3 linked regions of the Homo sapiens genome follow. The protein of the gene in region 1 interacts with the protein of each later gene in a pairwise test. Each region holds a gene or a part of one and is shown in the gene's direction. Other genes may lie near its edges. The genes, in order: MSN, MYBPC2 and CDK11B.

Region 1 (3,647 bases):
GATTTTTTTTTTTTTTTTTTAGTTTAAAGAAAGGAGAAAGCACCCATAAGATCACCACCCCAAAACCAAGCCTGACTAATACTTGGACAAGATTCCAATCATCCTTCTATGTATACATTTTACAAAGTTGAGCTCACGGACTCTATGAAATACTGTTTACATTTCCTCAATATTACTAAAGTGTCTTCCGTGAGCATGAAATAGTCTTCATAAAGATTTTGTATGACCATATAAGAAGCCATTTTGTGGCTGTACTATATACATTATTTAAGCAAAATATCTAACAACTAAAAATCAATCTTTTTTTTCTTTTAATGGGAGACTTTTGTACTCTGTAAGAGGAATTTAGCATATTGGTTTACATTGTGAGGTTTGGATTTAGACCTGGATTCAAACCCTGTCTCCCCTGCTTAATAGCAATGTGACTTTAGACAAATACCTATTTCTTTATCTCCAATGTGGAGATAATACTCTACTTCACAGGGTGATTATTGATATTAAATGAGGTAGTACATATGAAGTGCCTGGTGAGTAGCAAGTCTTGATACAGGAAAGCTGCTGCCTGTTACTATTACTACTGCTACCATTACTACTGAGTTTTCAGCCAAAGGACTAAATCTCTAATTATGAAATTTCAGCTATCATTGACCTAGCTTCGAGGATCTATTTGTAAAGGTGGTATTTTTTCTAGTGCCCGTGAAATCATGTGTGTGGCTGTCTCTTATTTTGGTCTGGGCCTGTTTCTGCACCTTTGTCCTCCCACTGAGTTGGCTTTGGTAGCCCCTCTATGCCACCCATACCCACCTCTACTGAGGCCCCCTTCCCCTCTTGAGCCTAAGGAAGCCAATGAGACATAAATATAGGAAGCATTAGCAATGCAAGGCAGTATATAGAACCACCGACATCAGCACTGAAATGGTCTTTGGACCATTTATCTAGTTTAATTGGCTGCCCTCCATCCCATTCCTGCCTTTGCACAGGTAAGGGAAACTAAGGCCCAGGAAAAGGACAGGAGTTATCCAAGGTTGTAGATTTGACCAGCTACATGCTAGGCTTGGAATCCAGTGTTCTTCTTTGTTTTTAATTTTTATTTTAAGTTCAGGGGTACATGTGCAGGTTTGTCATAAGGTAAACTCATGTCATGGGGGTTCATTGTACAGATCATTTTATCACCCAGGTATTAAGCCTAGTACCCATTAGTTATTAAAATATTTTTTCCTGATCATCTCCCTCCTCCCACCCTCCACCTTCTATGTGTCTGTGTGTTCTCATCATTTAATTCCCACTTATAAGTGAGAACATGTGGTATTCTACAACCTCTGCCTCCCGGGTTAAAGCGATTCTCGTGCCTCAGCCACCAAAGTAGCTGGGATTACAGGTGTGCACCACCTTGCCTGGCTAATTTTTGTGTTTTTAGTAGAGATGGGGTTTCGCTATATTGTCCAGGCTGGTCTTGAACTCCTGGCCTCAAGGGATGCGTCCATCTTGGCCTCCCAAAGTGCTGGGATTACAGGTGTGAGCTACCATGCCCAGTCTGGCATTTGATTTTCTGTTCCTGCATTAGTTTGCTAAGGATAATGACCTCCACTCCATTCATGTTCCTGCAAAGGACATGATCTTGTTGTTTTTTATGGCTGCATACTAACATACATTTTCTTTATCCAGTCTACCATTGACTGGCATTTAGGTTGATTCCATGTCATTGCTATTGTGAATAGTGCTTCAATGCACATGCGCGTTTATGTATTTTTATGATAGAATGATTTATATTCCTTTGGATATATACCCCATAATGATATTGCTGGGTTGAATGGTAGTTTTGTTTTCAGGTCTTTGAGAAATTGCCACACTGTTTTCTACCATGGTTGAACTAATTTACACTCCCACCAACAGTGTATAAAGGTTCCCTTTTCTTTGCAATCTCACTAGCATCTGTTATTATTTTTTTTTGATTTTTTAATAATAGCTATTCTGACTTGTGTGAGATGGTATCTCATTGTGGTTTTGATTTGCATTTCTCTAATGATGTAAATTTTTTATATATGCTTCTTGGCCACATGTATGTCTTCTTTTGAAAAGTGTCTCTTCATATCCTTTGCTCACATTTTAATGGGGTTGTTTTTTTTCTTGTAAATTTGTTAAAGTTCCTTATAGATGCTGGATATTAGACCTTTGTAAGTTGCATAGTTTGCAAATATTTTCTCTGGTTCCGTAGGTTGCCTGTTAACTCGATAGTTTCTTTTGCTGTGCAGAAGCTCTTTAGTTTAGTTAGATCTCATTTGTCAATTTTTGCTTTTGTTGCAATTGCTTTTGGCGTCTTTGTTATGAAATCTTTGTCCATTCCTATGTTCAGAATGGTATTACGTAGGTTTTCTTTGAGGGTTTTTATAATTTTGAGTTTTACATTACTTTTACATTTAAGTCTTTAATACATATAGAGTTGATTTTTATATGTGAGATAAGGATGGGGTCCAGTTTCAATCTTCTACATATGGCTAACCAGTTATCCCAGCACTGTTTATTGAATTGGGAGTCCTTTTTCCATTGCTTGTTTTTGTCGACTTTGTCAAAGATCAGATGGTTGTAGGTGTGTGGCCTTATTTCTGGGCTCTCTATTCTGCTCCATTGGTCTCTGTGTCTGTTTTTGTACCAGTACAATGCTGTTTTGGTTACTGGAGCCCTCTAGTATCATTTGAAGTTGGGTAGCATGATGCCTCCAGCTTTGTTCTTTTTGCTTAGGATTGCCATGGTTATTCAGGCTGTTTTTTTGTTTCCATATGAATTTTAAAATAGTTTTTCCTAGTTCTGTGAAGAATGTCATTGGTAGTTTGATAGGAATAGCATTGAGTCTATTCTATGAATTGCTTTGGGCAGTATCACCATTTTAACAATATTGATTCTTCCTATTCATGAGCATGGACTGTTTCTCCATTTGTTTGTGTCATATCTGATTTCTTTGAGCAGTGATTTGTAGTTCTTCTTGTAGAGATCTTTCGCTTCCCTAGTTAACAGTATTCCTAGATATTTATTCTTTTGTGGCAGTTCTGAATGGGATTGCCTTCCTGATTTGGCTCTTGGCTTGACTGTTGTTGGTGTATACGAATGCTAGTGACTTTTGTATGTTGATTTTTGTACACTGAGACTTTGCTGAAGTTATTTATCAGATTAAGGAGCTTTTGGGCCGAGACTATTGGATTTTCTAGATATAGGATCATGTCATCTGCAAACAAGGATAGTTTGACTTCCTCTCCTCTTGCTTGGTTGCCCTCTATTTCTTTCTCTGGTCTGATTGCTCTGGCCAGGACTTCTAATACTATGTTGAATATGAGTGGTGAGAGAGGGCATTCTTGTCTTGTGTCGGTTTTAAAAGGGAATGCTTCCAGCTTTGGCGCATTCAGTATGATGTTGGTTGTGGCTTTATCAGATGGCTCTTATTATTTTGAGGTATGCTCCTTCAATACCTAGTTTATTGAGAACTTTTAACATGAAGGGGTGTTAGATTTTATTGAAAGCTTTTTCTGCCCTTTAGATTATCATGTGGAACCCAGTGCTCTTTGTCCTGATATTAATTTGCCTCTGCAATTGTTTACCAGTGCTATAGATAATCCAGGTAGATCAGAGGTGAGAAGAGAACCCTGTGAGATGAA
Region 2 (3,647 bases), on another chromosome or scaffold:
ATCCATATATCTATCTCTTCACCACTATCTTTGCTTCCTTCCCTCTTTCTACCTATATGGCCATCCAACCATCTGTCCACCTAACCAGCCATTGTCTCTCTGCCTGTCCATCCATCATCTGTACCTCCATACATCCACTCTCCATCCTCCACCAAACAAACATTCACTGAGCACTGACTTGTGCCCGGCCCAGTGCCATGGCTATGGAGATGTCTCAGACGCAGCCATCTCTCTGGGAGAACAGACGTGATCACCTCGACACACTATCCCAGGTCTTAAAGTCAGACAGATGCGGGTTCCAACCTTGCCCCTCCACTGTCTAACTGTGTGTCCTTGGGCAAGTCTCTGAGCCTCAGTCTCTTCATCTAACCATGGCGAAGACAGTTCTCATCTTGACAGGGTACAGTGACGATGTACTCGAGAATGCATGGAAAGGAGGGATGGTTGAACCCTCATCAGCTTCCTCCCTCCTCCTCTCCTCCGTGCTCTTTACCCCATTCCTCCCTGGCCGGCTGCTCCCACCCTGACGTTTCAGAACCCAGCTTGTTAGAGTTCACTCTGTTGATTGCTGCTCTGAGCCAACAGCCATGAGTTCCCCAGCCCATGGCCATAAACCCAAGACAGAAGGGCATGTAACGAAAAGCAGGCAATCTGAAGAGCTCTGACCCTGCCCTCAGCCCGCCTTCCCAGACACCCACCTGGCTGCGCCCTCAGACAGAGCCAAGATCCCTGCCCCTCTGTGCCAGCCTTGCAGGAGAGCAGAGCTTGAGAGCGTGCTGGAGTCAGACAGGCCTGGGTTTAACATCCTAGTCCACAGAGCCTGAGCTGCGTGTCCAGGATGGTCTTGAATTCCTGGGCTTGAGAGATCCTCCTGCCTTGGCTTCCCAAAGTGCTGGGATTACAGGCATGAGCCATGGTACCTGGGGAAAGTTTTTTTTTTTTTTTTTTTGATGGAGTCTTGGTCTGTCGCCCAGGCTGGAATGCAGTGGGGTGATCTCGGCTCACTGCAACCTCTGCCTCCCAGGTTCAAGCGATTCTCCTGCCTCAGCCTCCTGAGTAGCTGGGATTACAGGTGCCTGCCACCTTGCCCGGCTAAGTATTGTGTTTTTAATAGAGACAGGGTTTCGCCATGTTGGCCAGGCTGGTCTTGAACTCCTGGACTCAAGTGATCTGCCCACCTCAGCCTCCCGAAGTGCTGGGATTACAAGCATGAGCCACGGGATTACAAGCATGTTAGGGATGGTTTCCCATCCTTAACATGGGGATAGCACAGGGTTGAGGTAAGAATTAATGAACAACGCCTATAATCCCAGCACTTTGGGAGGCCGAGGTGGGCGGATCACGAGGTCAGGAGTTCAAGAGCATCCTGGCCAACATGGTGAAACCCCATCTCTATTAAAAATACAAAAATTAGCTGGGCGTGGTGGTGCGAGCCTGTAGTCCCAGCTACTCAGGAGGCTGAGGCAGGAGAATTACTTGAACCTGGGAGGCGGAGGTTGCAGTGAGCCAAGATCTTGCCATTGCCCTGCAGCCTGGGCGACAGGGCGAGACTCCACCTAAAAAAAAAAAAAAAAGAATTCGTCCCACTGCACTCCAGCCTGGGCGACAGGGCGAGACTCCGTTTAAAAAAAAAAAAAATTAATGAGCGAACAGAATGGCCACCCTTAGAACCTGGCCATGATGAATGCTTAACTAACTCCAGCTGCTGCTGCTGCTTCTACTGGGAACTTACTCAGTGCTCACTCGCTCGCTGCGTGGGGCCCAAGTCCCCGGGAGAAACGGGAGCGGAGGATGGGAGGAGGGCACGAGATCCGCCAGCAGGGCCTCTCTCTCCAGCCGAGGAATGGGTCCCTGCCAACACCGAGCCCGTGGAGCGCTGTGGCTTCACCGTCAAGAATCTCCCGACCGGAGCCAGAATCCTCTTCCGAGTAGTTGGGGTCAACATCGCGGGGCGCAGCGAGCCGGCCACCCTGGCCCAGCCGGTCACCATCAGGGAGATTGCGGGTGCGTGGCCCCTGACCCTGCGCTCCGAAAGACCAAGCTGGCGTCGTCCCGCCTGCCCTTTCCGTGTCGTCGACAGGACCTCCCCAGAGAGCCTTATCACCATTGGCCCCTGGAATGCGCCCCGGCCCCCCGCTGAGCCCCCTCCCTGTGTTTGCGCCCTCAGAGCCACCCAAGATCCGGCTTCCCCGCCATCTCCGCCAGACCTACATCCGCAAAGTGGGCGAGCAGCTCAACCTTGTCGTCCCCTTCCAGGTCAGGGGAGCGGGGTCACGGGCCGGGGGTCCGCTCTCGCCGCAAGCCCCCTTTTTGCGGGTGGAGCCCCGCTGACCCCACCCCGCCCCGCCCTCTCCCCGCAGGGAAAGCCCCGGCCCCAGGTGGTGTGGACCAAGGGCGGGGCCCCGCTGGACACCTCCCGCGTGCACGTGCGGACCAGCGACTTCGACACCGTGTTCTTCGTGCGCCAGGCGGCCCGCTCCGACTCCGGGGAGTACGAGCTGAGCGTGCAGATCGAGAACATGAAGGACACCGCCACCATCCGCATCCGCGTTGTGGGTGCGCGCGCTGGGGAGGGCCCCTGGAGGCCGGGAGGGGCAGGGATGGGCAGCGATGGGGGAGGAGGTAAGAGATGAGGGGTGGGGAAGGAGGTGGGAGATGAAGGGTGGGAGAGGAGGTGAGATGAGGGATGGGAGAGGAGGTGAGAGATGGGGGGTGGGAGAGGAGGTGAGAGATGAGGGGTGGGAGAGGAGGTGAGATGGGGGTGGGAGAGGAGGTGAGAGATGGGGGGGTGGGAGAGGAGGTGAGAGATGGTGGGAGAGGAGGTGAGAGATGGTGGGAGAGGAGGTGAGAGATGGGGGGTAGGAGAGGAGGTGAGACGAGGGGTGGGAGAGGAGGTGAGAGATGAGGGATGGGAGAGGAGGTGAGGAGATGAGGAGGGGAGGGGGAGAGGAGGTGAAAAGATGAGGTGGGGGAGACTAGATAAGGAGCAAGGCAAGTACCAGGGCTAGGAGTGGAGGAGAGATGAAGATGGGGGAACCCTTGAGAGGGAGATTGGGTGAAGAGAGGAAGTGGGGAGACATGGGGGTGAGGAGAGGAGGTGAGGAGGGATGAGGGTGGCCCAGGATAAGAGGAAGTGGAGAGACTGGGATGGGGGAGGCCATAGGCAGGAATGGGAATGGGGCATAAGAGAGGTTAGAATCAGGAGGGAGGGGGTGTGGAGAGGGGAGGGGAGGGAAGCGGCTGGACATCCCAAAACCTGGACTGACTTGTCACACTTCCCCATTTCCAGAAAAGGCTGGGCCCCCCATAAACGTGATGGTGAAGGAGGTGTGGGGCACGAACGCGCTGGTGGAGTGGCAGGCCCCCAAAGATGATGGGAACAGTGAGATCATGGGGTATTTCGTCCAGAAAGCAGACAAAAAAACCATGGTGAGAGAGCAGAGGGGGAGATGGGGAAGAGCCGGTGAGGTGGGCAGAGCAGGTGCAGATGTCCCCCGTTCACAGCTGGAAGGGCAGGGAGGGGCCCAGAGGCTAGAGGACGGGCTGGGGCCAGGAGGGAAGCCTTTTAGCTGAGACTTGGCACGTGATGGGTTTTCATTTTCTTTTTTCACTGAGGTAAACGTCACATAACGGAATTAGTCATTCAT
Region 3 (3,647 bases), on another chromosome or scaffold:
GTGCCTGAACAGGATCGAGGAGGGCACCTATGGAGTGGTCTACAGAGCAAAAGACAAGAAAACAGGTGGGTGGGGTCCCCTCACCCCACAAAGGCAGGGGAAGTGGGGCAGGGGCTGGCTGCCCGAGAGCTGCGACTGCACCTGGGCCCGCCTCACCTGAGCAGCTACTGGAGGTTGGACCCCTCAGCACCTCTAGAAGCCAGAGGTCAGCCTGGCCCTGGGGCTTTGCCACTCCCTTGCAGTAGCAGGCGGCCTGCCCCACAGGGCCGAGGCCCAGCGCGTGGAGTGGTCTGTGCCGGGGCTGGTGTGCAGGTTTGCGTTCCCAGCGTCCCACCCAAGCAGGTGTGTGAGCCGGGAACTCTGTTGGGAGTCGGCCACTGGGATCCCAGGTGAGGCCGGCTCTGTTGGGGAAGTCGATGTGGAGTCGGCGTGGCCGCTGGGATCCCAGGTGGCTGTAGGTGGCTGTGAGTGTCTGTGGTGTGTTGAGTGGGAAGCCGTGGGTGTTGCCCAGACCTCAGCTGGGGCGTTCTCCTGGTGCCCACGTGCCCCCACCTAGAACGAGACCCCCCTCCGTGAAATGCTGGCGCTTTGGGCACTGCCTGCGGTCCTCACTGAACGAGTCCACTGTTGGTACCGTGACTTTGAGAATGCCTCTCAGTGCCGTCTGTATTTTCTTCACAGATGAAATTGTGGCTCTAAAGCGGCTGAAGATGGAGAAGGAGAAGGAGGGCTTCCCGATCACGTCGCTGAGGGAGATCAACACCATCCTCAAGGCCCAGCATCCCAACATCGTCACCGTTAGAGTGAGCATGGCCCCACCACGCCTGGCCCCGGGTGGAAGGCTTTTCTGACAGGGCCCCGTGCTGTCCTGGGGCCGGGTGCTTCCTACACTCTCCTGCACTTAGTGGAGCCCTTCACAGACCACACAGAAGCAAGCATTTGCCTCCCGGGTGGCACCGGAGGTCCTTACTGTCCCTCAGCAGCTGCACCCGGGTGCAGGGGTGGGTGGGGGCCTGGAGGTGCCCAGCACCCACAGAGCCGTGCCCTGCAGGAGATTGTGGTGGGCAGCAACATGGACAAGATCTACATCGTGATGAACTATGTGGAGCACGACCTCAAGAGCCTGATGGAGACCATGAAACAGCCCTTCCTGCCAGGTACAGCCGCGCCCCAGGGGCCTGTCTGCGTACAAGTGGGGGCAGGGTCCTGGTCACCCCCGCGGTGACAGTGCTGCAGGGAGGGCCAGCTGCATCCACAGGGAAAGCCCTGAGAAGCCTCTGTTGCTGCCGAGGCGAGTGGGCCACCCTGAGTGCCCTGGGCTGGGGGCAGCCAGGTCCACATGGGAGCTTCCCTCCCTCCCAGGGGAGGTGAAGACCCTGATGATCCAGCTGCTGCGTGGGGTGAAACACCTGCACGACAACTGGATCCTGCACCGTGACCTCAAGACGTCCAACCTGCTGCTGAGCCACGCCGGCATCCTCAAGGTGAGCCCCCCTCCGAGTGGCCCATCCCAGGGAGACCTGCCGGGGCCCACTCACAGCCGCCCATCTGTCGTTGCAGGTGGGTGACTTCGGGCTGGCGCGGGAGTACGGATCCCCTCTGAAGGCCTACACCCCGGTCGTGGTGACCCTGTGGTACCGCGCCCCAGAGCTGCTGCTTGGTGCCAAGGTGAGTCCTGGGCGTCTGAGTGCCTCCCCTGTCCCCCACGCAGCCTCCCACAGCTTCGCGGGCACTGGCCCTCCTGAACACCTCTCCTGACCTCTTAGGAATACTCCACGGCCGTGGACATGTGGTCAGTGGGTTGCATCTTCGGGGAGCTGCTGACTCAGAAGCCTCTGTTCCCCGGGAAGTCAGAAATCGATCAGATCAACAAGGTGTTCAAGGTGGGTCTGGCCCTGCTGCAGGTGCGCTGTGGGGTTGTGGAGGAGTTGCAGGAATGGGGCTGCGGGGCGCACAGGTGCTGGGTTGAGATGGGGACCAGGGCCACTGAGAGCCCTCCTGGTGGCTTGTCTTCTCTGACGGGACACAGGTGCCAACACTGTGGGCCACTTGGTGTGGCTGTTGAAGCACCTCTGTCTTTCAGGATCTGGGGACCCCTAGTGAGAAAATCTGGCCCGGCTACAGCGAGCTCCCAGCAGTCAAGAAGATGACCTTCAGCGAGCACCCCTACAACAACCTCCGCAAGCGCTTCGGGGCTCTGCTCTCAGACCAGGGCTTCGACCTCATGAACAAGTGAGCCCAGTGCAGCCGGGTGGCGGGAGGTCCCGAGCCATAGCGGTGACTTCCCAGTCCCAGGCCTACCTGCTGGCTCACCACGTTCCAGAACTGCTCTGGTGCCTGGCGTCCCATGCCCTGAGCCCCGTCCCAACACAGCCCATCTTTGGGGGACCCAGTGGAGCACACGAGCACCTCCTGGGCCTCTGGCCCTCTCCCCCCAGGTTCCTGACCTACTTCCCCGGGAGGAGGATCAGCGCTGAGGACGGCCTCAAGCATGAGTATTTCCGCGAGACCCCCCTCCCCATCGACCCCTCCATGTTCCCCACGTGGCCCGCCAAGAGCGAGCAGCAGCGTGTGAAGCGGGGCACCAGCCCGAGGCCCCCTGAGGGAGGCCTGGGCTACAGCCAGCTGGTGAGGGGCCTGGCGGGTGGGGCGTGCCCACAGGTGGGGCTGGCTTGGGCAGGGTTCTCACGGTAGCCGACTCGTCCCAGGGTGACGACGACCTGAAGGAGACGGGCTTCCACCTTACCACCACGAACCAGGGGGCCTCTGCCGCGGGCCCCGGCTTCAGCCTCAAGTTCTGAAGGTCAGAGTGGACCCCGTCATGGGGAGAACTCAGCCGGGACCACAGGCGTGGCTACTGCGGCTGGAGCTGCGATGAGACTCGGAACTCCTCGTCTTACTTTGTGCTCCATGTTTTGTTTTTGTATTTTGGTTTGTAAATTTGTAGAATTAAATCATTTTCCTTGTTGTGGAGGAAAGAGCTGTGTTTTCTCCGTGACTTGCCCAGGGCGGAGAGGGTGGACATCTTCGGGTGCCCACGTGGGGCAGCACAAACCTCCACACACCCTCTCCCACTCTCGACACGCACGGGGCTGGCTGGGCCGTGATTTGGAAAGGAACTGGTGGGAGCCGGGTGGATTGTTTAATCTTCGGAGCTGGAGACCTGTTTCTGTGTTGGGATGAGCGATGCCCTCTTGCCCCAACCCACTCGTCCAGACCAGCCCTGTCCACACAGGCCCCCGGCCCCCAACCCCCAGCCCCAGCTGTGCCAGCAGACTCGACAGGTTTTTATACAAGGTTGTTGAGTTTTAAAATGTATTAAAATATTCTTCGAGGAAAGCTCCCCGTGTCGTCCTTTGAGTGACCCGGGACCATGTGTGGGAGGGGAGTCGCAGACCACCGGGCTCTAGGGGAAGAGGGTGGGGTGGGCGGCTGTGGCCTCTGACCCCATGTGGGCCAGTGTCTTCCCCAGGCAGGAGGGGAGCTCCTACCTCCTGGGGGGCCTCCACTCTGGCAAGGTGGTCCCCCACCCTGTGCCAGTCCTCCCAGCCCCCACCCACATCTCCTTGCAGAAGATCCTGGAGGCCCATCCCAGCCACATCTTTCAGGAAGCCCCCTTTGCCTCCCTCCCCCAGCTCTGAGCAAGT

Evidence for each region.
Region 2: the proteins of MSN (region 1) and MYBPC2 interact in a two-hybrid assay, tested with the Homo sapiens proteins (one large-scale study listed by BioGRID and IntAct).
Region 3: the proteins of MSN (region 1) and CDK11B interact in a two-hybrid assay, tested with the Homo sapiens proteins (one large-scale study listed by BioGRID and IntAct).

What each region holds. Positions count from the first base shown.
Region 1 is NC_000023.11:65,712,545-65,716,191, forward strand, and holds part of MSN (moesin), read left to right. Parts: intron 1-3,647. UniProt on the Homo sapiens protein: Ezrin-radixin-moesin (ERM) family protein that connects the actin cytoskeleton to the plasma membrane and thereby regulates the structure and function of specific domains of the cell cortex.
Region 2 is NC_000019.10:50,456,751-50,460,397, forward strand, and holds part of MYBPC2 (myosin-binding protein C, fast-type), read left to right. Parts: intron 1-1,836; coding exon 1,837-2,004; intron 2,005-2,167; coding exon 2,168-2,256; intron 2,257-2,360; coding exon 2,361-2,556; intron 2,557-3,289; coding exon 3,290-3,429; intron 3,430-3,647. UniProt on the Homo sapiens protein: Thick filament-associated protein located in the crossbridge region of vertebrate striated muscle a bands. In vitro it binds MHC, F-actin and native thin filaments, and modifies the activity of actin-activated myosin ATPase.
Region 3 is NC_000001.11:1,634,918-1,638,564, reverse strand, and holds the end of CDK11B (cyclin-dependent kinase 11B), read left to right. Parts: coding exon 1-65; intron 66-681; coding exon 682-803; intron 804-1,051; coding exon 1,052-1,157; intron 1,158-1,362; coding exon 1,363-1,484; intron 1,485-1,560; coding exon 1,561-1,668; intron 1,669-1,711; coding exon of another isoform or gene 1,712-1,766; coding exon 1,767-1,883; intron 1,884-2,083; coding exon 2,084-2,232; intron 2,233-2,438; coding exon 2,439-2,628; intron 2,629-2,708; coding exon 2,709-2,801; 3' UTR 2,802-3,340; downstream 3,341-3,647. UniProt on the Homo sapiens protein: Plays multiple roles in cell cycle progression, cytokinesis and apoptosis. Involved in pre-mRNA splicing in a kinase activity-dependent manner. Isoform 7 may act as a negative regulator of normal cell cycle progression.